4 linked regions of the Homo sapiens genome follow. The protein of the gene in region 2 binds, or shares a complex with, the protein of the main gene of each other region. Each region holds a gene or a part of one and is shown on either strand. Other genes may lie near its edges. The genes, in order: CACNA1C, CACNB2, CACNG1 and STAC3.

The links.
Region 1: CACNB2 (region 2) and CACNA1C share a complex: the UniProt entries of both Homo sapiens proteins name them as parts of the calcium channel complex.
Region 3: CACNB2 (region 2) and CACNG1 share a complex: the UniProt entries of both Homo sapiens proteins name them as parts of the calcium channel complex.
Region 4: CACNB2 (region 2) and STAC3 share a complex: the UniProt entries of both Homo sapiens proteins name them as parts of the calcium channel complex.

Annotation. Positions count from the first base shown.
Region 1 is NC_000012.12:2,055,964-2,062,988, reverse strand, and holds part of CACNA1C (voltage-dependent L-type calcium channel subunit alpha-1C), read right to left. Parts: intron 1-7,025. UniProt on the Homo sapiens protein: Pore-forming, alpha-1C subunit of the voltage-gated calcium channel that gives rise to L-type calcium currents. Mediates influx of calcium ions into the cytoplasm, and thereby triggers calcium release from the sarcoplasm.
Region 2 is NC_000010.11:18,143,401-18,150,425, forward strand, and holds part of CACNB2 (voltage-dependent L-type calcium channel subunit beta-2), read left to right. Parts: intron 1-7,025. UniProt on the Homo sapiens protein: Beta subunit of voltage-dependent calcium channels which contributes to the function of the calcium channel by increasing peak calcium current. Plays a role in shifting voltage dependencies of activation and inactivation of the channel.
Region 3 is NC_000017.11:67,047,552-67,054,576, reverse strand, and holds part of CACNG1 (voltage-dependent calcium channel gamma-1 subunit), read right to left. Parts: intron 582-7,025; coding exon 507-581; intron 1-506. UniProt on the Homo sapiens protein: Regulatory subunit of the voltage-gated calcium channel that gives rise to L-type calcium currents in skeletal muscle. Regulates channel inactivation kinetics.
Region 4 is NC_000012.12:57,248,188-57,255,523, reverse strand, and holds the start of STAC3 (SH3 and cysteine-rich domain-containing protein 3), read left to right. Parts: upstream 1-4,336; 5' UTR 4,337-4,531; intron 4,532-5,793; exon of another isoform or gene 5,794-5,886; 5' UTR 5,887-5,887; coding exon 5,888-5,953; intron 5,954-6,215; coding exon 6,216-6,483; intron 6,484-6,720; coding exon 6,721-6,818; intron 6,819-7,325; coding exon 7,326-7,336. Other genes in the region: R3HDM2 (R3H domain-containing protein 2), read left to right, coding at 411-751. UniProt on the Homo sapiens protein: Required for normal excitation-contraction coupling in skeletal muscle and for normal muscle contraction in response to membrane depolarization. Required for normal Ca(2+) release from the sarcplasmic reticulum, which ultimately leads to muscle contraction.

The sequences.
Region 1 (7,025 bases), on a different chromosome or scaffold from region 2:
CATACACATCAAAAGGGTAAATTTTACGGTATGCGAATTATACCTCAACAAAGCTGCTATTTCAAAATAAATAAATAAATAATGCATGAAGTCTGGAGAGCTCAGCTTACAGGGATGGTCCCCGGGACTCACGGGAATCTCGTTTGAGAATGGAGAGTGTCTATTTTCCTGGAGGGAGTGACTGAGGAAATATTCCAAGAATGGGTGGTGAAGCAAGGCCATGCCACAAATGGGTCCCCCGGGAGACAAGGTGTACTGACCTAGGTGGTCTGTGAAGGCCTGTGAGGAGATGTGAAGAAGCAAGGAGGGCCCTGGCAGAAACCCTGGGAATAAGGGGAAAGAAAGCCAGAGGACGGGACCAGGAGGGGAGGCGGGGTACCACGACAACATGCAGCCATCAAGTAAGAACAAGGATTCCAGCTCTGAGCTTCCACAAGGCAAATCTAAGCCAGGTTCCAGAAGGCAAGGACAAGGTCATTTTCCCAGGATAGAGAGATAGTGGGTTTCTCTTTCTACTGTTCTCCATGGGGAGAAGTAACAGAAAGAGCAAATGTTTTGAAAGTCCGACAGACCTGAATTTAATTCCCAGCCCCAACACTGTCTGGGTGGCTGTGGCCACATTGCTTAAGACTTTGGTCCTCAGTTTCCTTATCTAAAAAATATAATTAAAACCCACGTGGTAGGATTACTGTAAGGATAAAACATATTAAGCACATGAAGCACCAAGAACATTGTCTAACACATGCTAGGCATTCAATAAATGGTGGCTATTACTCTTGCTCTATTTTAAAATTATAACAAGGTAGATGTTATACCTCAATACAGCTTTTTTTCTTTAGAGAAAAATTAAAACATATATGGCTCCACAGATCACAGGACCAGAGCTGGGGGTAGAACAAGGTGCAAACAAATGCGAAAGTGCGAAAGTTTCCCAGCATACTTTTTGATGATGGGATTATTTTTGCTTTGGGAAACTAAAACTAATCCTGTCACTTAGACTATAATGTTAAAGCTCTTTCCTATTTTGATCAGTGTCTTAGGGAGCTACACAGAACTGTCCCCTCTATCTCCAAACCTGCAACATTTTGGCTATGAAAAATAAATAAGTTTATTTTCCAAACCCAAAGTTTACTTTTGAAGCAAAGTTTTATTTTCCAGCCCGTCCTCCTGTACTGGGAAGTTGGGTTTAGGTTTGGGGAATTCACGTTCAAAAGTGAGGAGACATTGGTTGCCCAGGTGGTGTTCTTCCTGCCCTCAATGGCCCTATTTTCAGGCCATGAAAGGACTTCAGGCCAGCGTGGCTTTGGACTTGAGGCCGAAGCCAGGCAGCCATGTGTGGTGGCAGTGAGGGGACAGCAGCATGGCAGGTGGACAGCTGCCAGGCGTCGGATACCCTGCATCCCCATGTCCTCACCCTCAGCTTGGAAACAGCAGCAGTGCCAGCAGTGCACATGGCTCCACCGTCCTGGGAGCCTACTGGCCACAGGCTCCTAGACTCTCTGGAGGGCAAAATACCAGGCCCATCTCAACCAATGGTTCACTTCCTCCCTGATTATTCTGGTATCAGCCAGACCACCTCAGACTCTGGTTTCTCTTTGTTTTACATTTTCACCTTTAAAATATTGAATAATGTCAGCCCTCCCACAACACCTCCAAAGTTGTTTGAAATGCTGTGAATGTTACTTCATGGCGTTGCTTTTCCAAACTCTGGTGCTCTGCTCGCTGATGGGGAGAATAAGAGTAGCTGATGTTTGAACAGCGATATACACTCATTCTCCTATTTGGATCCTCACAGCTGCCCTGCGAAGTGAATTGGCTAAGGATTATTATCTCCACTTTACAGACAAAAAAAAAAAAAGGGATTTGATTCCTTCTGAACTCTCAGAGAAAGAGATGAAGTCAAAGAATGTGACCCAAGACCCAAGTCATTTCTCTAGCCTACAGCCTTATTTATTCTTTAGCTATTTACTTTGTTACTTTTGTTAATGTCTTTGAAAGGTTTTAGCCCAACGTAGATTATTTTGGAAGAAAGAAAGGAATATAAATGACTGTACATGACACAATGGTTATAAAGTAAATAGAGCTTAATTGAGTACTCAAGTCAACATTTCTGCCCACAGGCAATATGGAGAAGAACATTCATTCACTGTCTAGATTTTGGCTTGGTTCTCTAAAGGACAGGAGACAAGATTATTTTATTTTCCTTTTAGCTAGGTTCAAGTGGGCAACACCAAGTGTAGCCGAGTGTATTAAAAGAAACCCCTGTTGGCAAATTGGCAGCTTGAATATTTCATGAAATTATCACAACACTATGTTCTGAAATGATGGCTTCCTCCAGGGAACTCAAAAGCCACATCTCTAAGCATGAGCCTGGCTCATGCCTCCGTCTTCAAGCTAGACCGAGTCAGCCTCAGAGGCCTTCCAGTTTCTCAGAGATGACTTGAAAGAGTATGAAACAAGTCAGCCAATGAACACTTCAAGGAAGATGGGAATGTCAGAGGCAGGTCCTAGTGATTCTCTTCCATGGGCTGAGTCTACCACCACTGCTGGGAATGTCTCCTGGGAGTAGGCCGGGGGTCCTAGGAGACCAACCCTGACATGGGAGCAGAAAGACGCCCTTGGTCGCCCAGCTCAGGTGGAGTCTGTGGCAGCCTGTCTCACAGTCTCTACCCTGGGGCTGATCTGTGTGTCTATACCCCAGCTACTGGTAATGCCAGCTGGTCCATGAAGAATCCCAGCAGCTCACCAGGGAAGTCCCACAGCACAGCCCGGCTTCCCATCCCCATCCCACTCTCGCAAAGGGGCTGAAACAAGCCTAGATTGGGGCCGAGAGGAAGTGAGCAAATAAAAAAGGCTTAGAGGCAGATCTGTTTGCAGACAAAATCGTGATCTGAATTTTGCAGGAGTTTCTTGTGGACATGTATGAACTTCTACTCTGTAGCCTAAGAAAGTGTTTTTAAACCTTTCCAATGATAGATTTCCCCCACCCCACCCTTCCAACTCCATTCCTAAATCTAACATCGCAGAAATTATTTTAAGGCAGTACAAAGGTGGAGGCAGGGGGAGGAAGAATAGAGAGGTTGAAAGATCTACCAAGCAAAATTTAGCCAGAAGCACTAACAATGCTCTCTCAGGGGGCCAGCACCAAGTGTGGTACAGGCAGGAGGATGAAGAGACTGAAGACCTTGTATTTAGTTACATCCCTGCCTCCATGAACCTTTAGGGGCCTCTGTTTTCTCAACTGGAAATGAGGATTGTCTCTAAGGTTCCTTTACCCATAAAATGTCCTGATCCTAGAAAGTAAATTCCCAAAGAGACATTACATTTATTCTATGTTTGACAAACCCTTTAACGAACCAGAGCCTAGCCCCTTGCCCCCTATACACACAGGGTATAGCACAAGAAGCCCATTTTAAAGTGAAGGTGTTTTGCAGAGAACTGTTCTGTGGGGTTTTGGGGAGGGGAGGGGCTGAGAGGTTTGGGTTTCTTGCCAGTTAACCCCCGCTTTCCTCACCCTCTGCTTCAGCCAGATGAACCCTTCCTCTAGTTCCCTCGGCTTCCAGGGAAGGAAGGGTCTATTTTCAACCTCGGTCCGACTCCTGAGCTCCAGGCCCAAACTTCTCTCCTACAGTCCCTACAATCCCAACTTAAATTCAGTTCAGCTCCACAAGGAGTAACTGACTACCCTGATGACCTTGTTCCCCAAACCCTCCCAGACACCCTAGGGAGTTGGGGCTCCTCTGGCTTCCCCTCACCTTCTGCATCTCAGCTCTCGGAGGCTCCAGCCATCTCACAGCTCTGCTTTTCTGTGGGGTCATCCTGGGCTCCCCATCTCCCAGCTGGGGTCCTGCCCACACGGTACACACAGCTAGCACTGAAGCAAGGTTCTCCAGGGACCTGCGCGGGTCCTGCCTGAATTCGGCAGGGGAAAGGGGGCAGTAGAGAATGCATCCACTTCCCTTCCTGCCATGATAAACAGCTGCCTCCAGGGGTGCCTCAACTATAGAAACCAAGAGGGTCTGTCTACCTGCTCCAGGCCCGTGTCTACACAGGCTCAGGAAAGCCTGGTCTTGAGCAAATAAGCACCCCATCTAGGAATTAAAACACAGAGAAGAGCTCTTCTGGAGTGCCCAGGTTTCAGTTCAAATGATGGCATTCATTATTTCAGCCTTCCATTTTGCTTTTTCTGCAGTGGGTTCAGTTTAAGTCTACACACCCGGCTTCGAAATGACACCGAAAAACATTCCATTCCATTTTCCCCGAGGGATCCTGTCACTTTTACTTGTTTTACGTGGTATCTAACCTTGAGGTACATGTAAACAGGTGTTTACTAAATTATTTTAATAATGACAGCCATGGCTCAGAGTGTTATTTCATTATCAGAATGTTTAGCACTTCTGTCCCTAAATATTTGGCACCTGATATGTTGCAAAACAATTCCCCATGCCTTTTTTTTTAAAACCAATCTTCTGTTCTCCTCCACAGTGCCCAACATTAACCTAGGCAACTGTGAGGATGGAATCTAGAAACAGATGAAATCAGTGTGATTATTTTGTTAATTAGGCTTGTTGTTAAGTCTCCAGGTGTTTCGCAAACAGTCTATCAGCTTTCTGTAGTCCATATTGGAAAATAAAATTGTCTGCTAAATCTGAATGCTCAGCACTGATTTCAGGGTCCCAGCAAGGAAGAGGTGAGATGACGCCGGCTGACCTGTACCTCCTACAGAACAAACAGCTGCTGTATCAGGCGGGAGGAATTACTGTAAAAGGAAGAAAGTGCTGCCAGCCACTCACCCCTTCTTAGCACAGTGCCAAGGGCTTCTCAGACCTCATGGAACTTGCCACACAACTAAGAAAACCGAGTGAAGAAAGGAATAGAAAAGAAAATGCCAGGCGCTGGAAAACATCACTGGAAATTAGAACAAATCTCAGTTACTTCCTAACCTGGGTCTCCTGAGCTTTTCTGCCATTACCCAGCAGGAGATCCAGGCAGACTCATAAACGGAAATCAACTGTGAAGTGCACCCAGTTGTTTTTGTGTTCTTTTCCCTATTAAAGTTAGGAAAATGTCCTCCTGCCTTTGGCTGGCAAGCTCTGTGACTGCACAGGTCTGGGTTCCCAGATCCCATGCTTCAGGTCACCCCATGCTCCACTGGGCTTGGGCACCACCGGGCCCTCTGGTTACTAAACCATCAGTGAAAAATCAGGGAGAAAATTAACATCTGGCCATACCAAGTTCAGCGATTCACCCAAAAGGCTTCCTCCAGGCTCGGCGGGATGCTGTCTGTGCTGGAAGGGAACAGACGTCTGTGGGAAGAGCCTGCGACGGACTGGGTGGGCTCCAAAGGAGTTCTCATTACAACAGGGTGGAGAGGTCACTGTGGGACCTGGGTCCCTCAGTGATGCCGCGAGGGCCTCCAGTGTGTGCGGCGGCACGGAGACACACTGGTCTTTTGGGTTACCTGTGCCGGGGCAGGTGTGGGCCTGATGGAAGCAGCACAGCCCCAACAGGTCACAAGCTCTAAACTCCCCCTACACCTTTCATCACCAGGCGGACCCTGAAGCCCCTTTCCTGACTCCTAAGCCCTGTGGCGCCACCTACTGGAAGAGGCAGAAGCCACATCTACTGCAGGTCTGGCCAGGTCGCATTCATTCATTCACGCAGACATTTATTTGTTCAGCCTTGCATCGAGGCCCTGGACTGAGCAGCGGCCTGTACTAGGAAGCAGGGATCCCAAGATGAGCAGGGCCTCGAAATCTCCAGTCAGTATGCTCCTTGGATCCCTTTGATAGGTCTTACAGAAGAACCCAACTCAAGCAGTTTTATTTGAAGAACAAATTGAAGAGACCTAGGTCATTGCCAAGACTGAGAGATGGTCCCACGGGGCTAACGGCTCATCATTTCATTTACAAAGCACTGTGCCTGCAGCATCTACCTGTAAGAACAAGTCTCCCTTTACTATGAAGAAGAAATCTTTAAACAGTCTTAGGAGACTGCATTATCAATACTTCTCTCTCAACACCCCAGGTCCCTGAAGGGCATTAGCCTCTCGTGTGATCTATTTAAAATAGCTTTTCCTTATTCCATGTGTGTATGTATACACACACACACTTAAATACTGTTAGTGTGTATTCTATGGAAATAATGAAAAATTGACTCTTTTTAATATATTGTCATATTCTAAAACACTAAAAAGTGCCTGACCAATAGTAGGAATAATATGATGAACTCCAATAGCCCCTTTCCTCCAGTTTTCTCCATGCAGGATCAAGAAAAAGCAAAGCTATTGCCACAGCTTTCTTTAACCTGCTCAAGCTGATGTGCGAGCAATGTTGTTCTCTGACCATTTGTAAAGAAAGTTAACTGTGATCATTATTATTATTACCTTATTACAGTGATTCTTATTCTGCTGAATCGCTAAGTAGTTAAAAGAAAAGCACAGTGTGTCTTGCACTCCCCAAACACATGTTTCTCCCCTCTGCCTTGTCTCTAGCAGATAAGGGACATTCTGGTGTTTTATTTGTTCAATGGTTGACTATTAAGACACTCATTTGCTAGCTGGAGCCTGCAATAGAAAATCGGCCCAGAAAAGTGGGAGGCTGGCACAGGCCCAGAGCAGACAGGGCACCAGAGGCGAGGCAAGGCTTGAGTGTGCCACCCCAGCCTGAAACCCAGGGTCAGAAGCTGGTCCTTCAATGAACTTCCAGGCTGTTCCCAGGCACTGACCTCCAGTCTCCAGTTCGACCCTCAACACACACACACACACACACACACACACACACACACACACACTCACACACACTCACACATGCACACACTCCACGGAAAAGGTGAGGGAGCAAGGACTGGTGCATTCCACATCTCAGAGCATGTCGGGAAGAGAGGAATGCACAGCCCCCGCCACTGACAACTTTTTTGGTTCTCGACTCTTTGTTTCGTCACCATTACTGATCTTCTGAGGCAGTCCTAGACTCCTCTTCTGTCTCCTGAAACTCTAACCCCTATGATGGCTCACCCGCCCCCTT
Region 2 (7,025 bases):
TCAATTCACAGGAATTAGCAAGTGATTGCATAGATAAAGGAGAGAGAAGAGAAAGGGCAGAATGGATTTTAAAAGCAAGTTTAAGAGATATAAATATTCAACTGCATCAACATTCATCTCCTTGCTTTCTCTGCCTTCCAAAAATGAAAGCAATTTGACTTGAATTGCGTTCATCTCACACCCATTATTTGAGGGAAACATTACCTTGTTTATTTTATATCTGATAAATCATGGCATCATAGGATTGTGTGAGGCTTGGGAAAGCCATCTCTTCCATCTCTCTGTTTGGGCAGAACAGACCAGCAGTAAAAACTGCCTGAGAAAGGAGGCTGGCTCTAGAGCATCCTCCTTGTATGTGGCACCGAGTAATTCTACTCAGAATTATTGGGCAGTTCTACCTAGAAATGGAGTTTCTATTTACAAATGGAACCTCTAAAGCAATGATTGGTTTTAGGAATCATTCTACCTCACCTCTGGATTATAGTATTATATTTGTATGAAGAAAGCAGAAGATGTAGATTTGCAAACTCTGCCATTTTCCTTTTCTGTATCAATCATTCTGTCTAGAGAGAGGGAGCATCCTGATACATTCCGGTCCCTTTGCCCCAGTACATTGCCATAAACAAAATGATACATTTCTCAAAGCCCTGGTTTTTGTTTTGTTTTGTTTTTGTTTTTGTTCTGTTTTGTGTTTTGAAACGGAGTCTCACCCTGTCACCCAGGCTGGAGTGCAGTGGCATTATCTCAGCTCACTGCAACCTCCACCTCCTGGTTTCAAGCAATTTTCCTGCCTCAGCCTCCTCAGTAGCTAGGACTACAGGCGCCCGCCACCATGCTCAGCTAATTTTTTTGTATTTTTAGTAGAGACGAGGTTTCACCATGTTGGCTAGGCTTGTATCAAACTCCTGACCTCAGGTGATCTGCCCGCCTTGGCCTCCCAAAGTGCTGGGATTACAGGCGTGCGCCACCATGCCCAGCCCAAAATGGATACGTTTCTTACATGGGAAATGAATGGCAATCTAACTGCAAATTCTTGAAAGTCCCCATTTAAGAAAATTGCATTGCTTTTTAGGTAACCTGTTGAACAGTTTCAGCGTGAACCTGGACACAGTCTACTTCCAAAGTCCAGGTGCTCATGGAGGACCCTTTCTCCAAGCTCCAGATCTGTCTGTTCATTGTGGTAGCTGCTAGCCACCTGTGGCTTTTGAGCCCTTGAAATGTGGCTGGTCTGAACTGATATGTGCTGTAAATGTGAAATACACACCAGATATCAAAGGCTTAAGATGAAATAAAGAATATAACACATCTTCATTAGTAAATTTTAAATTGATGACATGTTGCAATGACCATGTTTTGGATATGCTGGGTTAAACAAATGCATTGTTACAATTAATTTCACCTGTTGCTGTTTACCTTTTTAATGTGGCTGCTGGAAAATTTCAGTGATATATTTGGCCATATGACATTTCTATTGGGCAACATTAAAGTATGAAACTGGTAATTCTCCAGGGAATTGAATAGCTCCTGCGTGAAGGTTGGGTGAACGGGAAGCAGGTGACAGGGATTGATAGGTAACAGAAGAGGAAACGGAGGAGTAACAAGAACAGTATCTCAGCACTCTAGGCCTCAGAGAGATTGTCAGTGGCACCTCCAGTCGCACCTGAAACTGAACAGACAGTAACCAGTGGGCCTGTTTGTTTTGCTCCTAGCAACAGGTCCCAGCTGGTCCCAGCCCAGCCGAGTCTGCCAGATGCTTTTCAAGCATGTTGTGGTAATACAGCCTGGTGATGGCAACATCCTGAATGGCTGTAGCAAGGAGCTTTATCCAAAAAGAGTAGCAGCTGTTTTCTAGTGGCTCTTCAACTACATCAACACTGTTTTCCTGAAATATTCTTAGGTCCCGTGTGCAAATGAGTTTTCTGCAGTCTCCAAAGTTGGTGGTTACAGGTCCTGTGCTTTATGTTTTGCTGAAATCTTCACTCTTAACCACCATCACTTTCCTCTTGAATGGTATTTTTTTTTTTCTAATGTGACATGGGAGAAATTTACAGACATGCCAATCAGAATTTCTGAGTATGTTTTAGAATTTGAAATATATCTGAGTGATTTGAGGTTTTGTTGTTCTTACAATATCATGCTCATTTTATTTTTCTCTCTCTTTTTATGTGAAGACTCAATTTACCTGTTGCTGTATTTAATTCCTTTGAATTATATAGCCTTGGCCCTTTCAAGAGAAGCTAAGCAAAATATGTTAACCTCATAGGGGATGGTGATACTCTACAATTTTGTGGCATGTCTCTATCCTACACGTAGTCTAGGTCAAACATAACATAACATGGTTATGTTACAAACTAATTGTAACAATGCATTATTTCACAACTGCAGACAGAGAAAACTACTTATGACATCACTTAAAGGAACCGGGCCTGTCTTACTGATCTTTCCAAGCCTGGCAGGAGGTAGACTGTGAAGAAGGCATGTGTTGTTCCTGGCTTTCTGCTCTCCCTGCCTGTGCTCCTCCTTACTGGGCAGATAGATCTCTGCTTCCTGGCCTCCTCCTTCCTCCCTCCTCCCTCCTGTACCTGCTAGACACCCACCCCCATCCCCAAGAACTCTATTTATGCAGGCTCCTTGTTCCTTTCTGCTTTTGTGTGAACTGAGCCATATTATAAAAGGCAACTTACTTCTCTCTTTTTTCTAGGAATGTCATTTAGCTACTTCTTGCCTAGTAAAGGATCTTACCCTTAGCTTATTCACACTAAGCTATTGGTAAATGAGGAGATTTGATACATGATTTCTCTCTGGATAGTTTTGGCTTTGTTTGTTTTAGGTCATAAGATGAGGAAAGTCTGGAAATTCAAAGGGATAAACATCAATGAATACGAACTGAGAGAGATGGAGACTAATTTTTTTTTTTTTTTTTTTTTGAGATGGTGTCTCACTCGGTAGCCCAGGTTGGAGTGCAGTGGTGCAATCTTGGCTCACTGTAACCTCCACCTTCCATGTTGAAGCAATTGTCCTGCCTCAGCCTCCTGAGTAGCTGGGACTACAGGCACATGCCACCACGGCCAGCTAATTTTTTTTTTTTGTTTTTCGAGACAGAATCTCGCTCTGTCACTCAGGCTGGAGTGCAGTGGCGTGATCTCGGCTCACTGCAACCTCCACCTCCTGGGTTCAGGCGATTCTCCTGCCTCATCCTCCTGAGTAGCTGGTATCACAGGTGTCCGCCACCACGCCTGGCGAATTTTTTTGTATTTTTAGTAGAGATGGGGTTTCACCATGTTGGTCACATTAGTCTTGAACTCCTGACCTCAAATGATCTGTTTCCCTCTGCCTCTACCTCCCAAAGTGCTGGGATGACAGGTGTGAGCCACTGTGCCCAGCCTAACTTTTGTATTTTTTAGTAGAAACAGGGTTTCGCCATGTTGGCCAGGCTAGTGTCAAACTCCTGACCTCAGGTGGTCCACCCACATTGCTTTCTCAAAGTGCTGGGATTACAAGCATGAGCCACCGTGCCCGGCCTAATTTTAAGTGTCAGTATTTTGCTCATGGGAAGTAATCTGTAGGTAGGAGAAGTGTCACAATAACCATAAAAGCACAGAAGCCACATCATTCTTCAGGTTGTCCCCAGGGGCTGCCAAGACAACTTTGAGTGCACGGCTAAAATCTCCAGTTAACTGACAACTTCTGTAATTAATTATTCCTGTCTCCTTCAATCATGCAGCAATTAGATTTTCATTACCTGTGAAAAGGTCAACATTTATTTGCTGATTTTTAAGACTGGAGTCCATTCTTAAGTTACTTCGTGTCAAGGAAGATGGATATTCATTCACACTAAGCTGATATTAACATCATGATGGATTTTGAATGTCTTTTTAATAAGTCATTAATATATTTTTGGAAATTTCTTAAGAATTTTTTTCCCTAGTTTCTGAAATCTTAGCTTGATGTTTTGGAACAACTAAAGGAATATAAATATAAGAGTTTTTTTTTTCTTTTTACTGTGGTGACATAATTTGTTTTAAGCTTCATATAGCTAATAGCAATTAGTGGAAATTAGTGACTTTTGGGACTCTTTCAAGAAGGACACAGAGACCTGCATGTGTCAGGGAGAATCTATAGGTAACACCTTGTACTACAGCCAAATCCCCTTTCCTGTCTCCCCTTTTCCTTATACAACCTGGGCTGCACTAATGATTAACTGTTTCAGATATTGGGCGTTCATATATTTTAATGCTGGTAAAAAATATTTAGAAAAACTGTTCACAAAAGTAGCTGCACTTGAAGTAGCAAATTAACTAAAACAATTACATATATTTTTTTTTTCAAATTTAGTCAGCTAAATATTTGAACACTTAATCTTCCCTGTCTTTTCCGTTTGGGAGAGGTTTGGCCTTCACTTTTTTCCCCCCTTAATTCCTTCAGAAGAAGTAGTCTAGTCCTTATTTTCAAGGATTTCAAGTAACTGAAAACCAAATCTTTCGAGCAAGATGGACTTAATTTTAAATACACATTAGATTAAAATAAATTTAATTTTGTAATAGCAGGATGAATTTTCACTAACATTTTTAAAGGTATATGAAAATGGACTATTAGCTTTCCAAAGATGCTTTAAATGTTTTTTTGTTTTCTGATCCTGACTGTTATTATAATAACAAAATAACTGGTCAGTAAGTAATCACTCTACAGTTTTTTAAAAAAAAAGAAACTTTAGAAGAGAAATTCCTGTGGAAATTAGTAAAATAACAGAATAGAGATATAATGAAGCATATATATTTATTTTGTCTTTTAATATGATATATGATAGGGATTTGCTCTAACACTCTTAAGGCATGAGCAAATGAATACTTTAAATAAATCATCCCTTATACACTTAAGTAATTGAAGAACAATTTTTTTTCTCAAAACTATCACCAGCATGCATGCAGTTCAGTGTGCTATAGTTGTTTGGTGTATAAACTATCTTAGTACAGTTGAAAACTGTAATAATTTCATTACATATACTTTGCATAGGTAGCTAAGTACGCCTGAAATAACATTTATGAACAGGATTCCCAGGGGTCTGGAAAAATTAATGTGAGTTTTTAAATGTGTTCAACTTCTTGCAGAGAACAGCCACCTCCTCTGTGACTGAATGTCTTCAACATTGTGTGGCTCTCACAGTGCCTGTTGTACAATTGTAAGCAACCACAAAAAAGCTTACACATTCAAGAAGTTGGATAATGAGACATATTTATCACTAAAATGCTAAAATTAAAGGACAATAGAATTGCGAAGATACTCTTTTCTGTTCATTTAAAAACGGTACTGGAGGCTGGACATGGTAGCTCACTCCTGTAGTCCCACCACTTTGGGAGGCTGGGGCGGGAGAATTGCTTAAAGTCATGAGTTCAAGACCAGCCTAGGCAACATAGTGAGACCCTGTCTCTACAAAAAACAAAAATTAGCCAAGCACGGCAATGTGTGCCTGTAGTTCCAGTTACTTGGGAGGCTGAGGTGGGAGGATTGCTTGAGCCCAGAGGGTGTGGGGTGTAGTCAAGGCTGCAGTGAGCCATGATCATATCACTGCACTCCAGCCTGGGTGACAGCACAAGACACTGTCTCAAAAAAAAAAAAAAAAATGGGATGAGATTATATTTTGTCTTTGTTCTCAAAGATAATTCATGTTCCTCATGAGGATAAACGGTGAATTTAACAAAGATTGTCGCTACACCCCCAAAGAAACAGGCCTTAAAAATACTTTCTAGGTAATAAGTATTTTTGCACATAGGTTAATATAAATTTAAAAGAAAATTTTAAAGAGATTTTCATACTTTATTTTAGCCTTCTTAGGCCTTAGAAAATGCATCTGTCCAAACCTTTACATAATAATTGGAAAAGAAAAAAAGTGGTTAAAAGAATGTTATTTTTCAACAGTTTACTGAATAATGTTTACACAAGTAAAAAGAATGAGCTGTTAACCGAGGACAACCTTGTATATTACATTATGAAAGACCAGCGTAGCTTTCTTGCCGTTTATGAAGTTGAGAGTTAATTAAATGTCATGGAAACACATTTGTATTATATAAATCCCTTAGATACTCTGAATAGAACAAACATATATAAGAAAATTTTTTGCTTTAAGATGATACCACCCTCTCACTGATAGCAAATTCGTCTAAATTACTCATAACGCAAATGTTTGTAATAGATTTCAGCTTGCCTAAGTGCTACATATATTATGGCAGATATTTTAATGAAAAGCATATGAATAGAGAAAGCATAACCAAATAGCATTTTGAGAACCTGAATGTGATGATTTTAAAAATAAATGTTGTAAATTTTGATAATCTAAGGAAGTCTCTATGAGCCTAATAATTGTCAACATGTTATACGCTTTAGTCCAGTTTGTTTCCACATCTTCCAACCCCTGTATAGGTATCACTTTTTATGTATTACTTTGAGTCCTTACCATGTGTTAGATCTTATGCTAAATGCTATAAATACATTATTTCGTTTCATACTTAATCCTATGAGGTATTATTTCATCTAATACTTAACCCCATTTTAAAGATGAAAAGATTGATGCTTGAAAAAGTTAAGAAATTTGGTGAAGATTTGCTATGTCCAGGATTCTAACCTGTGTGCTACATTTAACTCTAAACTCAACTGTTAAGCTATTGTTCATTTATATTTTAATGTTTAATATTTGCCCTTACTGCATCTATGCTTAGAATTAAACATAGATTGATGTGTAGTTTATTCTTAGGGTTCTGAATGTAAACATAATAGGAAAAGCAAGTTCATTTTTAGATGTTTCTGCTTGGCCCAATCCTATTATCGAAACAAATCATCTTACCTTTAACTTCCTGTTTTAAATGCTTATTTTTAAATGCTTTATCATTACAGGCTTTTGCCTCTTGCCTGCTAACACATTTATAAGACGACATCCATTGTTTTAATTCACTAGTTATTAAATGCTTTGCCAAGAAAACCCTCCTCAGCCGGGTGCAACGGCTCATGCCTGTAATCCTAACACTTTGGGA
Region 3 (7,025 bases), on a different chromosome or scaffold from region 2:
GCTGTCTGGGCGCAGGCAGGCACGGGTCTGTACTCCCGACAATGGGTGTGCGTCTGAGCTCTGCGGATCCTGAAAAGCTCCCAGAGCCCACCGCACCCTCCTGGTACTCAGGGAGGGATTTCTAGGCCAGGGAGGGACTCAGACTGTCCCTGCAGACTCTAACTATCACATGCCACCAAGAGCCACCACGGGGCTTCTGAGCATTTGTTCCACATCCACACCTCCCGTCACAACAGCTGCCCTTGTGTAGGGGCCTACCAGGAGGTGCTGCTTCTGCAAACGCTCCCTGGCCCCGAGGTGTGGAAGCTCCGGGCCCTGGAGATGGAAGGCGGCTGCCTGGGGCCTCCGGAGCGGGGAGCTGACAAGGCTGTTGTTCAAATGCACCACAGGCTTCTTCTCATCAGGCGTGAGGAAGTCAGTGCTTTTGCCAATGACTTTCTGGCCCAGTGGTGCACAACACAGAAGTCCCCTCTTGTCACCCCAGACCCCTTTCCACCCAGGCTCACCCTTCTGAGTGGTGAATTCGAAGATCTCCGAGCTCTCGCCGGGGTTAAAATGCCTGAAGTAGGAACAGTTCTTCTCTGCAAAGGAGGAGACAGACTGTGAGTTGAGGGGAGCAACCCGTAGCAAGGACAGAGGCCTGGCAGAGAGCGTGGTGTCATTCTGCTCGGCATGCAGGGGGCTCTGGCAGCCTCTCTTCTCCCCAGATCCTTAATCTGGGCTGAAACATCTGTCTTTGACCCTTAGAACAACATCTCAGTGGGATAATGAGGTTGCCTGCAGGGCTGGGAGGTCTTCAGGGAGCTGAGGCTGGATGAGTCTGCAGGGCAGACGGCCTGTGGGTTCTGCACCCCATTAGGCAGACAGGGTAACCGAGGCCCAGGCTCAAGCCATTTTTCAGGGTGTGCAGGGTGCACAATCAACAAAGAACCAAACAGCAGTCTCTGTTGGGGCCGATTCTGCCCCCCCAGGGGACACTTGGCGATGCCTGGGGTTATGGTGGTGGTGAGAGGGGTACACCTGGCACCCAGCCGGTAGAGGCCACAGACGTTGCTGAACATCCCAAGACACACAGGACAGGTCCTCCCAACATGGAATGATCCAGGCCAAAATATCAAGAGTGTCAAGGTTGAGAAACCCTGGATCAACCCCAAACCTGGGACTGTGTTTCTCATCAGAATCCAGGCACACCCTGGTTCATTGGTGGGACCTGGGAAACAGTGTTTTTCAAAAGCTTTCTGGGAGAGCCTGATGTGCAGCCAGGATGGGAACCCTGCTCCAGGCCCCTTAAAATGCCCTGCAAAGGGCTTTTTCCGAGTGGCCATTGGGATGGCCTGGATGCAGATGGAACCCCTACGAGGGCTGAATGTGACCATCATGTGGTTTCACTGGGTCCCTGGTCTTTGCGAGACAGCCCAGATGAGACCTGCCCCCACAAAGCCGCTTGGCCCACCTGATAATTGTCATAAAAGCTATGGAAAGTCTGTGGGCAGTAGGAACGCAAATCTGAATTTGATGAGGGAGAGGGGAGGGGCTCAGCACAAGGAAATTCATGCTGATTTAAAATATAATTTCATTTCCATTTTTCTCTTTCAGTCTCTCTCTCATAGCTAGGTATACTATAAAATCAAAGCACAGGCCGGGCGTGGTGGCTCACACCTGTAATCCCAGCACTTTAGAAGGCTGAGGCAGGAGAATTGCTTCAACCCAGGAGGCAGAGGTTGCAGTGAGCTGAGGTCGTGTCACTGCACTCCAGCCTGGGTGACAGAGTGGGACTCTGTCTCAAAAAAAAAAAAAGCACAGTCTTATTTCTTGCTAAATACGGTTTATCTTCTTTGCTCTTGATTTAGGAAGTGGATGAATGGGTTATTTTATATTATGTTTCCTTCCAAAACTAAATTAGTTTGCTTTTTATTTGTGGAGGCCCTTCATTGATTTCTTTTCCTGTGGATCAGTGACCCTTAAATAGAAAAACATCTCTTTCTCTAGTTGAGATGGTGTCTAGTTTGCCAATTCATTTCTTCACTTCCAGGCTTCATTTAGATGCTCATAAGGCGGTTGATGCCTAGTTCTTTCTGGAAATGTACCTGCAGTGATACCAAGGCTTTTCTTTGGGATGAAGACTTTCTTTAACCGGACCTAAATCATTCTTCTTGCACCTTAAGCCTGTGGTCTCATACCATGCCCCTCCTTCCCCCCAGAGCCAGGGCTGCTGCCTCTCCTGAGGTTGAGGAAGCAAATGACCCCTGGAGATGGGATCTGGTTTAGCAGCAGTACCCATTCCTGGCATAAACAGCCTTCTCTGTGTGCTTCTATATTTAAATCACTTTCCTTTTGAACCGCGTTACCTGGGGTGTCTGACTGCTGGTGGTGATGTCAGAATTGGTGCTCTGCTATTCTCTCTGGGCATCCGGTGCTATTTTAAAGCATAATGCAGATCTCTTCTATTTGTTAGATTATTGGCTGTAGATCTCTCGAATCACTGCTTCAAAATGGCCCATGCTATGTCATAAGTCTCCATGTGTCTCCCTCTGGACAAAGAAACATTTCTGTTTCTGTTTCATTCTTGAAGGGCCAATTTCAGTTGTCAGAATTGACTGAATTCAAGTGTATTTCATGGTCAGCTGCCTCCCTGACTGCTCAAAAGCCATAAGTTAAAATCCTTCCCAGCGGAGGGCCCTGAGATGAGGGCCATGGAGTGCCTTGCTGGGGGCACAGCTGTTTGCACCTGGTGGGTTGCTGAGGTGACTCTCACACAGGTAGCATTTGGCTCACCAAATCCCCACCAGATAAACGCCAGGCTCCGCCTGGCTGCTGGCTGCTTGGATAGAAATGATCTTAACTCAGACACAGGGGTAGGCTACGTGTCTGCAGGAGCCAGGTTGTGAGCTTCTGGGGGGATGCTTTTCTTTTGGTGGTCCAGGTACAGTGTTCCTCCTCCCTCTTCTCCATTAAGTGTCCTCAAATGGAGGGAGGGGGCCTCCAGTGGGTAGGATTCCTTCTCAGGGTAACAGGAAGCCTCAGCTTCACTCTTACATGGCTGAACTGGGGGCCTGAGGACTGATGGGCTGACCTCTCCCCTTTCTTGGGCTTAGCATGTGAAAAAGACCGGTGTCTCCTGCCCTGAACCTGAGAGAAACATCCACTCCTGGGCTATGTGGCTGCCCATTGGAGACCATAAACCCTTTCATGGTCTCTAATGGCCCCTGTAGGGGTGGGGGCACGTCAGACCCAGGCCTCATTTAGGACAAATCAGGCCAGGCATCTGCCCATGTTACTCAAGAGGGTGCAGGGTCCTGTTCAGATGGACAGACCCTACTATGAGCCCCTTCCCTCCCTGCCCTGTTCCTGGGTCTAGGTGGATATTATTTGGGAAACTGAGCATCCAGGGCAACGTAAAGAGGAAGGACATCCGAGGTGGACCCATCTTAGTCATGGGTCAAGAGGAGAGGGACCGTGACGGTCCTGTGCAGACTCTCAGTCTTCCTGCCTCTGCCTCTGGGATGCCCCTCTCTGCCCCGCTGCCCTGGCTTCCATCACACTTACACAAAGCTCAGGGATTGCAGCTTTGCTTCCGACTAAGTCAGCAAAGATTCCAATGCCAGGATGATGATCTGGGGTGTTAGGAACTCTGAGGTCGTGCCATTCTCCTTTGTCTCTGCAGATGGCTTATGCTGATTTTAATCTCCTTATTTCTGTAAGACTCAGCGGTTTAAAAATATTAAATGGGTTATTTATTAAAAATATGGTGAACTCAGCTCTCAGACTTGACTGGGGGATGGAATAGTCTGGCTAACCCAGTGTTCTGGTTAAGGGCATCAGTAACTGTGCAGAACCATGTGTAGTGTGCCAGTTTCAAAGAATTAGAGCAGAAGCCACATTTAGCTCCAAGCTGAACTTGAGTTAATAGGGATCTTTCTTTGATAGTTGGAACAGCTGGCAGGATTAGTGGATGCCTTGGGTTATCACTGAGAATGTATCAGTGTGCCAAGTGACTGTCCATGGAGACTTTCATATATTCAAAGATACTTTGTGGATTTGTCCAAAACCAAAGAAACTGGTACTTTAGGGGTGCAAGGAAGCCTCTAACTTGCATTGATGTCAGTGTTGTTTTTAGCCTTTTGGTAAAAGAAGTTCTATCAGCTCCCAACAGTGGTTTCTCTGGGCTGTGTCTCCTTCCACATCTCTGATTGAAGAATTTTATAAAATGGGCTGGAAATCTCCAAGACCTGACCCTAGAGCTTCAGAGCACTGCTCTTCCATGGGAGAAGCCTGGCTTTGGCCTAGGCCTCTGGCATGGACTTCTGTGGGTGGTGAAGTGAGCCCATGAAATTCCTGGGGTCAGTAGTATCATGCTCTTTTATACAATCCCAGTTCCCGCACTGAGAGAAGATGGACCAGTAGGGAAAATGGGGCACTAGGCAAAGTGGGCCCTGGGGCAACCTGCCTCCTTGCCCTAAAGAGGCAGAGTCTGAAAGAAGCAGCACTTCACCCAGCCCAAGGGCAGGGGATGGCCTCTTTGCGGGTTCATTTGGACTTTCAGAACACATAGTCTCTCCTTTGGGAGAGGCTCCTACTCTCATTCTGGAGGCATTGGAATTGGTCTTGGATGTTGATCTTGTACATGGAAGTCCTTCTAAGACTGTTTGGAGTCTAAGACTGTCTAATTTGGAAAAATTAGACAACTCTTGCCCACTGAGCCTCCAACATTTTAAGACTAAGTGGGACCTTGAGAAGTCTGCTCCACTGCACCAGCTTCTGGTCCAGCTGCCCTCAAACTATGCCATGTCAAAAGCTGGACTCCTTGTGTTCACTTGGGTCAGAGCTTTTAGGAGCTGTGTTTTCATGCACAATAGAGGGTGTGAGAAGGAACTGGAGGGAAAGGAGGCTCTGGATTCAAGACTTGAGTGGAGAACCTCTATTTGTTAGCTGGTTAGCCTGGGGAAGGCTATGCTCAGCCTCCCTGTTCCTACCTGTAGAATGAGACCCACCTGTAGAATGAGAACCACCTGTAGAATAGGAACCACCTGTAGAATGAGAACCACCTGTAGAATGAGACCCACCTGTAGAATAAGAACCACCTGTAGAATAAGAACCCACTCACTGGGTTGTTGTAAAGTAGTTAATGTATTGACTAAAACGGTGAATGTTAGGGTCTGAGTGTGAGTCCTGGCTGCTCTGCTCATCACCTGTGTTACCTTGTCAAATATCTCAACTCTCAGTGGTTGATTTTCTTTATCTGTAAGATTGGGATGATGATAATAGCATGGCCTTCACGGAGGTTTCTGTGAGGATTAGGTGAGCTAATATATGTATGTCATCCCACCACCTTCTGGCCTCCATAGATTTGGGGAAAAATTGGCTGTTCATCTTATTAAGGATTCCTCATATGTGGTGAGTTGTTTCTTTCCGTTTTTAAGATTCTCTGTCTCTATCTTTCAACAGTTTGATTATCATGTGTCTAGATGTGGATCCCTTAGAGTTTATTCTACCTGGAGTTCATTAAGCTTCATAAATTTGTCGATTTTTAACGTTTTTCATCCAATTTGGGAAGCTTTTGGACATTATTTTTCACATACCTTTTTTGCTCCTTTCTCTCTTTCCCTCTCCTTCTGGGACTCCCTTTACATAAACTTGATGGTGTCCCATAAGTCTCCGAGGCTCTCGTCATTTTTCTTTATTCTTTTTATCTGTCTGTTCCTCAGACTGGCTAATCTCAACTGACTTATCTTAAAGGTCACTGATTCTTTTGCCTGCTCAGATATGCCATTGAGCCCCTCTAGTGAATTTCTCATTTTAGTTATTGTACTTTTCAACTCCAGAATTTCTATTTTGTCCTTAAAAATAATTTCTGTGTCTTAATTGATAGTTTCTATTTCATGAGGCATCATTTTCATCTTTAATTGTTTTGATTGTTTTTTCTTTGGATATATTTACTATAGCTGATTTAAAGTTTTTGTCTAGTAAGTCCAATATCTGGCTTCCTTACAGATCTATTGACTTCTCCCTGCCCCATGTATGCCCCTTATCATTTTAGTTCTTTGTGTGTCTTGTATTATTTATGTATGTATTTATTTATTTAGAGACAGAGTCTTGCTCTGTCACCCAGGCTGGAGTGCAGTGGCATGATCATAGTTCACTGTAGTCTCTAACTCCTGGGATCAAACAATTCCCTCACCTAAGCCTTGGGAGTAGCTAGAATTACAGGCACATGCCACCACTCCTGGATATTTTGTGGGGTTTTTTTTTTGTTTTTTTTTTTTTTTTTGGTAGGGACAGGGTCTTGCTATATTGCCCAGGTTGATCTCAAACCCCTGGCCTCAAGCAGTCCTCTCACTTGGCCTCCAAAAGTGCTGGGAATACAGGAGTGAGCCACCACACCCAGCCAGTATTTTTTAAACAATATAATGTGGCAACTCTGGAAATCAGTTGTTCCCCCTTCTTGAAGATTTGTTCCCGTTGTTTGTTTAGTGACTTTTTTGAACTAAGATGGTAAAGTATGTGTTTTTTGTCATGTGTGATCACTGAGATCCCTGTTCAATTAGCTTAGTGACCAATTATAAATTTCCTAAAACGCTTGGCAACAATGCCTCTCCCAGTCTTTACTGAGGGGCTCTGTGCATATGACTTTCATGCTCAGCTAAGCCACCCACATCTCTGCCTTAGCCTTCACTTCCTGCTTGAACAGAGTCTCAAGATAAGGCAGAGAGTGCTTAGGGCCTTCTCAGGTCTTTCCTGAGCATGCATATAGCATTGTGCATGCATGTGGCCTCCTAGATTCCCAGGAATATGTTGGAGCTTTTCAAAGCAACTTATGGACATTTCAGTCTCCAGTTTTTTGGTTAGCCTGTTGTTTTCCCTAACTGTTATCTACTGCCTCAGACAGCCATGATGTTAATCAATCATCTCTAATTATTTTCAACAAACATCCCCAGGGAGAAAGACTATTTGCACTGGATGAGCTCAGAGTCAGGTCAAACAGAAACAGCTTCTCAAGTGGGGGTTTTCAGGGAATCACCAGACAG
Region 4 (7,336 bases), on a different chromosome or scaffold from region 2:
ATCTATTTGAGCCAGCCTCTGAGTGGGAAGGGAACTATGGAACATATTTCAGATTGATACATTATTGTTAAAGAACATTAGCAAAAGCCACATTTTCTTCATAGCAGTAGCACCTTGTGAGAGAACTGAGGTATAGGTTCTTAGCTCAGAAACCCAGGATTCTGATTCCCTGTCCCTTCTTTCCTGTATCTCTGGGCTAGGAGAATAGAAAGGTTCATTTGTTTTTCTCCTAGTTGCCCTGATCAGAGCTGGGATGGTGGGGAGGGGAAGAAAGGGCTAAGAGAGAAAGGCCAGGCTTTTGAAGACATTGTATACAGACTTAGTCAGCTGGACACTTCTCTGCTGGGCTGCTGTCAAGTCCTTCCTGTCCTATTCCTCTCACAACCATGTCCTCTCTCCTCCCCTTCCAGTCCTGGGGCGGGTGCTGGAGGTGACAGATCTCCCTGAGGGCATCACCCGTACTGAGGCGGACAAACTCTTCACGCAGCTCGCCATGTCTGGCGCCAAGATCCAGTGGCTCAAGGATGCTCAGGGGCTGCCTGGAGGGGGTGGGGGGGACAACAGTGGGACTGCTGAGAATGGCCGCCACTCGGACCTCGCTGCCTTGTACACCATTGTGGCTGTGTTCCCCAGCCCCCTGGCTGCCCAAAATGCCTCCCTTCGTCTCAACAACTCCGTGAGTCGCTTCAAACTTCGAATGGCCAAAAAGAACTATGACCTGAGGATCCTGGAGCGAGCCAGCTCCCAATAAATGGAGGAGGGGAAAGGGACTGTCACAGAAGGAGCAAGGGCAGGGTGGAGGGGGTTGAAGGATCCTGACAGACCATGGACAGAGGCAGGAAGTAAGGAAACTGATGTTAAACTGGAACCTAAGACAGTGATGAAGATGGAAACACAGATACCTACACTGGCATTGGACTCCTTCTTGCTCCCCTGCCATGGGTCCTCTCTTTTTCCCTGGTTGACCCCCCTTGCATCACTCTTCTTCCCATCCTCTTCTTTTTTTTTTTTTTTTTTTTTTTGAGACGGAGTTTCGCTCTTGTCACCCCAGCTGGAGTGCAGTAGCACGATCTTGGCTAACTGCAACCTCCAGCTCCTGGGTTCAGGTGATTCTCCTGCCTCAGCCTCCCAAGTAGCTGGCACTACAGACACGCGCCACCATGCCCGGCTAATTTTTGTATTTTTAGTAGAGACGGAGTTTCACCATGTTGGCCAGGCTGGCCTCAAACTCCTGACCTCAGGTGATCCACCTGCCTTGGCCTTCCAGAGTGCTGGGATTACAGGCGTGAGCCACTGTGCCTGGCTTCCATCCTCTTCTATCATTTTTTTAAATCTCTTCTCCTATCATAAAATTAATTTCTCATTTTTTGGTCAGGTAGAATTGGGAAAGTCCCACACTGTCCTCCTATTACCTTAACATCCCAAGCTTCCTTTCCTTTTTTGGTCTTTATGAATATATTTATATGGACAGAATTAAGATAAACAAAATTGATTGCCCCATTCTCTCACTTCCCCATCTTGTCTTCCTAGACCCCACAGAGTTAAAACTTGGGATTCCCCTGGCCCCCCCAGAACACTTGTATATTGTTTGTTTGAGGTTCGTGCCGCAGTAACAGACACAGTATTTAATTGCACATACAGATGTTTGCTGGGTATATTCACTGTAAATTTTATTTAATCTGTTTTTTTGTTTGTTTGGGGGTTATTTGGGGGGAGGTTGGTTTTGTTTTTAAATATAAAAAAAAAAATCTGTCACTGGACATCAGTCACTGTTTCTCTGTTGCCGCCCTGGTATGGGTAAAGGGTTGGAGGCCCTGGGTAGGTATAGCCCTACAGCTGTTGGAGGTGTTTGTCGTGGGTTGGGATGGCTTTCTCTAGCATACGCACACTATTTTAACACCATTCCCTCTGTCTCATCCTCTTCCCTGTACACGGTTCTGATAGATGGCTAGATCTCTAATGGGACCATGGCTTTGGGCTCTCCCGGTTCTGCCACTGTGGTTCATCGAGCATATCACTTCTCAACTCTGGATCTGTGTCCAGATCAGTAAAATAAGAGACTTGGACTTAGTAGGTGACCTCTAGGTTTCCTTCCAGACTATTAATTCTGTGGTACTGTGTACTCATTTAGGGCCCTTGTAGTTGAGTTTTGAGATAGGGTCTTGCTCTGTCACCCAGGCTGGAGTGCAGTGGCAGATCTCAGCTGACTGCAGCCGCCTCCCGTGTTCAAGCGATTCTTGTGCCTCAGTCTCCCGAGTAGCTGGGATTACAGGCGCGATCTAGCATGCCTGGCTAATCTTTTTTTTTTTTTTTTTTGCTATTTTTGGCAGAGACAGGGTTTTACCATGTTGCCCAGGCTGGTCTTGAACTCCTGGGCTCAAGTGATCTCCCGCCTTGGCCTCCTAAAGTGCTGGGATTACAGGCATGAGCCACCACTCCCAGCCCAGCTCGTCTTCTGAAAACCCTTTAGGGATGGAGAACTTGGGCCTTTCTTTTTTTTTTTTTTTTGAGATGGAGTCTCGCCCTGTTGCCCAGGCTGGAGTGCAGTGGCGCGATATCTCGGCTCACTGCAACCTCCACCTCCCGAGTTCAAGCAGTTCTCCTGCCTCAGCCTCCTGAGTAGCTGTGCCCCATCGTGCCCAGCTAATTTTTGTATTTTTAGTTGACATGGGGTTTCACCATGTTGGCCAGGCTGGTCTCGAACTCCTGACCTTGTGATCCACCCGCCTCGGCCTTCCAAAGTGCTGTGATTACAGGCGTGAGCCACCGTGCCTGGCTGCCTTTCTTTAATCCTAAAGCTGGAGGATTGGGTTTTACCTGTCAGGGACAGAAGCAGATTTTTATTACAATGAAAGCTACAGCAACTGAACTCGCAGTGCCAAGATGCTGTATTATCCAAACATGCTCAGCAGTCCCTGTCCTATGTGGCTGAAAAAAGACGAAGAGCAGAAGTCATCTTGCCTGCAAGATGGAGCTTTTCCTTTAGAGCATCTCAAAGCAAGCCCTGTTGTTCTGCAGCCTGTCAGAGCAGGGCCATTAAAGAACCTGCAGAGTCAGAACCATCCTGCACCCCCTTTTCAAACTCCCCCCTTAAATAGAAAAAAGTAGTGGGTGAGAATGACAAAGCACGTTGCCCTGGAAATCTCTTGGGTCCAAGTAGCTGTATCCCTAACGACGATCCTACAGGAGCTTGCCTGACCCAGTCTCCAACACAGTCCTTTATTTCTTACAGATACAAGGAATAGAGCAGCACTGCATTGCCACCTCTAAATTGCTCTCCCCTGAGATGGGAGTATCTCCTCTTTCATCCATGTCACAGCCCAAAGAGTAGAAGGGTGCACCCCTGTGAGATGAGAATGGCATCTGTCTCTTTGATCCATCAGTTATATACTGAGGCATCAAAGGTGGGAGATGGAATCAGGGAATCAAAAGGGTTTAGGAAGTGTGAGGGTTGGCCATCCTACCTTTAAGAGTTTGCAGTTCTCATGAGGAAGGGGACATTACTTAGAAATGATTTAAAAAATTCCTTATGTGGCAGCTATATGCTTCTGTCCAGTGTTAACTGGCCCTTTTTAATAGCCCTGGTAATTCCCTTCAGTCTGAGGACAAAATTTTACAAGAAGGAGGGTGGGGAGATGTCTCTGGGAGCTGCTGGAGGGAATGAAGCAATACTACATATTCTTCACTTTCTTACAGGATAGCAAAGTACTCCTCCAACCACCTACAGATAAAAAGCAATCTAGCCATGCACGGTGGCTCACACCTGTAATCCTAGCACTTTGGGAGGCCAAGGCAGGCGGATCACCTGAGGTCAGGGGTTCGAGACCAGCCTGGCCAACATGGTGAAACCCCATCTGTACTAAAAATACAAAAATTACCTTGGCGTGGTGGTGGGCGCCTGTAATCCCAGCTACTTAGGAGGCTGAGGCAGGAGAATCGCTTGAACCTGGGAGGTTGCAGTGAGCCCGGATCGCTTCATTGCACTCCAGCCTGGGCAACAAGAGCAAGACTCTGTCTCAAAAAAAAAAAAAAAAAAGCCATCTAGTATGGCTGATAGGAGAGCTCTATGAGTTCAAATTAGTCTTTTTTTACCCTGTCTCAAAAAATAAATGAAAAATAAAAATAAACTCCCCTTAAATGTTAAATGAGCATGAACAGAAACTGTCCCTTCCTGAATTCAGCCATTATTCACCTGTTCGCCTTAGATGAAGAATCAAGGAACAGCAGCTCTAGGGGGTTGGGAGGAGTTAGGGTCCGGCCCTGCCCCAGACCTCTCAGTGTCCAATTTCTCTGTGTCAGCTGTGTTTCTCAGCTGTCCACTTTCCTCCAGCCCTGTCATTTCAGCCCTGACACCAAGGCAGGAGGCTAGGAGGTCTACAAATAGCGACTGGGTAGCTGGTGTGAACACAGGGGGTACTGGGGGGGCTTAGCCCCCAAGGAAGAGGACCAGTTTTTCCCCAGCACCACCATCAAGGCCTCGAGGCTCCCAGCTCCCTCTACAGCCTGTGGACTGACTTAGGGAATCCCGAACGTAAGTTACCTCTTCATCCTCTTGATTTCCACGACTGCTCACCCCAGCTGCCCTGATCTATAATCTACTCAGCTTCTTCATTTCTCTCCTTGTCTGTGAGTCTTTTGGGTTTTAGGCGTAAAATTATTATTCTACTCTAGGATGAGTTTGGATTGAAGCGGGGGGTGGGGGTGGGGGTGGGGTGAAGGGAATGAAGTAGTAAGGGAAGGAAAGGCTCATATTACCCTGAAAACTTAAAATAGCTGAGCCCTGAGGCAGGCTGGGACAGAACTAGGCACAGGGCCCCCAGGGCTCAAGAAAAAAGTAGGGGAGGACAAATGTCTCCAGTCCATCCTTCCTTGTGTGCACACGAGGACACACATTAAACCTCTTGAAGAGAGGAGATCTGGGAAGGTATGCATCACATCTCTGTTGCCCACAGATTTCCAGGAGAAACAAAGTACCTATAGGAAAATGACGTAAACCACGCAGCTTTGAACACTGTGTAAGGGCTGTAAACTATGGGGTCGCCCCTCAGGATGGAAGGATGAGTATCAGTTTGAGGAACTAATTGGGAAGCTCTTTAGTCTGTTGGGCTTTTTTTTTTTTTTTTTTTTTTTTTTTGAGACGAAGTCTTGCTCTGTCACCCAGGCTGGAGGGCAGTGGCACAATCCCGGCTCACTGCAACCTCCGCCTCCCGGGTTCAAGCGATTATCCTTCCTCAGCTTCCTGAGTGGATGGGATTACAGGCGTCCGCCACCACACCCGGCTAATTTTTATATATTTAGTAGAGATGGGGTTTCACCATGTTGGCCAGGCTAGTCTTGAACTCCTGATCTCTAGTGATCCGCCTGCCTCAGCCTCCCAAAGTGCTGGGATTACAGGCATGCACCACCACACCCGGCCATGTTAAGCTTTTTTCTAGACCTCCATGAAATCTGTTAATAAAACCTGCCAAAGGATCTGTATTTGGCCCAGTGCAGTGGCTCACGCCTGTCTCAACAATTTGGGAGGTTGAAACAGGAAGATTGCTTGAGCTAGTTCGGGACCAGCCTAGGCAACAAAGCAAGACCATGTCTCTACAAAAAATAAAAAAGTAGCCAGGTAGTGTGCACCTTGTGTTCCAGCTACTCAGGAAGCTGAGGTAGGGGGATCGCTTCAGGCTGGGAGGTCGAGGCTGCAGTGAGCCATGATCACGCCACTGCACTCCAGCCTGGGTGACAGAGTGAGACCCCATCTCAACAGTAACAACAGCAAAATCTCTCATCACATTTCTCCGAAAGCCTCCCCTTTGAGGACCACCCTACTGCAAGGGACAGAAAGGGAGAGAAGAATGAAAGGGATTAGATTTCATAGTGGGGTCCAACCTCTTGCAGGATGACAGAAAAGGAGGTGCTGGAGTCCCCTAAGCCCTCCTTCCCAGCAGAGACTCGGCAAAGTGGGGTGAGTCTGGGCCTCTGACCACTGGGTGTGGGGGGCTGGGAAGCCATTACAGCTGAAGAAGAGTGCTTAAATTGATCTCATTTGTGTGTGACTCATTTTTTGCTGGCCAGCACCTGCAGTCCCCAATACCAATACCCCCCTAATCCTGGGGTACATTCCTTGCCTGAAACTAGAAAACTGTCTAGTTTGCTCTAGCGCCCCCCTACTCTAGAGAGGGTGACAAGTCCTTTTAACATTGGGTTTTCTTCACTCCCTCCCTCAGCTACAGCGGCTAAAGCAGTTACTCAGGAAGGGTTCTACAGGGACAAAGGAGATGGAACTTCCCCCAGAGCCCCAGGCCAATGGGGAGGCAGTGGGAGCTGGGGGTGGGCCCATCTACTACATCTATGAGGAAGAGGAAGAGGAAGAAGAGGAGGAGGAGGAGCCACCCCCAGAACCTCCTAAGCTGGTCAACGATAAGCCCCACAAATTCAAAGATCACTTCTTCAAGAAGCCAAAGTTCTGTGATGTCTGTGCCCGGATGATTGTTCGTGAGTCATGAAGGGAAGTGAAGAGAGTATGATATTGAAGGCAGAGGTTTGGGGAGAGGGCATAGGAGAGGAGTATTTGTAGCAGATGGGCTGTGGCTAGAGTTGGTGTAAGGCAATGCTATTAGAGATTGAGCAAGTAGGGTCCCAGACAGAAAAGGAAACCTAAGAGTAGCAGCAGTGGTACAAAGGGAAAGGGCAATCTGGAACCTTATCTGAATTTTCTCCCCCTTTCCCAAGTCAACAACAAGTTTGGGCTTCGCTGTAAGAACTGCAAAACCAACATCCATGAACACTGTCAGTCCTATGTGGAAATGCAGAGATGCTTCGGCAAGATCGTGAGTAGGCTGTGGAGAGCAAGGAGGGGACATGGCCACGCGTGGTGGCTCACGCCTGTAATCCCAGCACTTTGGGAGGCTGAGGTGGGCGGATCACGAGGTCAGGAGATCGAGACCATCCTGGCTAACACAGTGAAACCCCGTCTCTAAATACAAAAAATTAGCCGGGCGTGGTGACAGGTGCCTGTAGTCCCAGCTACTCAGGAGGCTGAGGCAGGAGAATGGCGTAAACTCGGGAGGCGGAGCTTGCAGTGAGCCGAGATTGTGCCACTGCACTCCAGCCTGGGTGACAGAGCGAGACTCCGTCTCAAAAAAAAAAAAAAAAAAAGAGGGGACATGTCACCAGCCAGCTACCCCTTGCTGGTCTCTCCTCCATCCCATTCATTTCTCTGCTTTTTCTTTCTCAGCCCATCTCTTTTTCTGAGAAAGGGTGAGCACTCCTGGGAGAGATAGGCTTCTGGACCTTACTTTGCTACCTCTAATGCTTCCTCTCATCCCATCCTACAGCCACCTGGTTT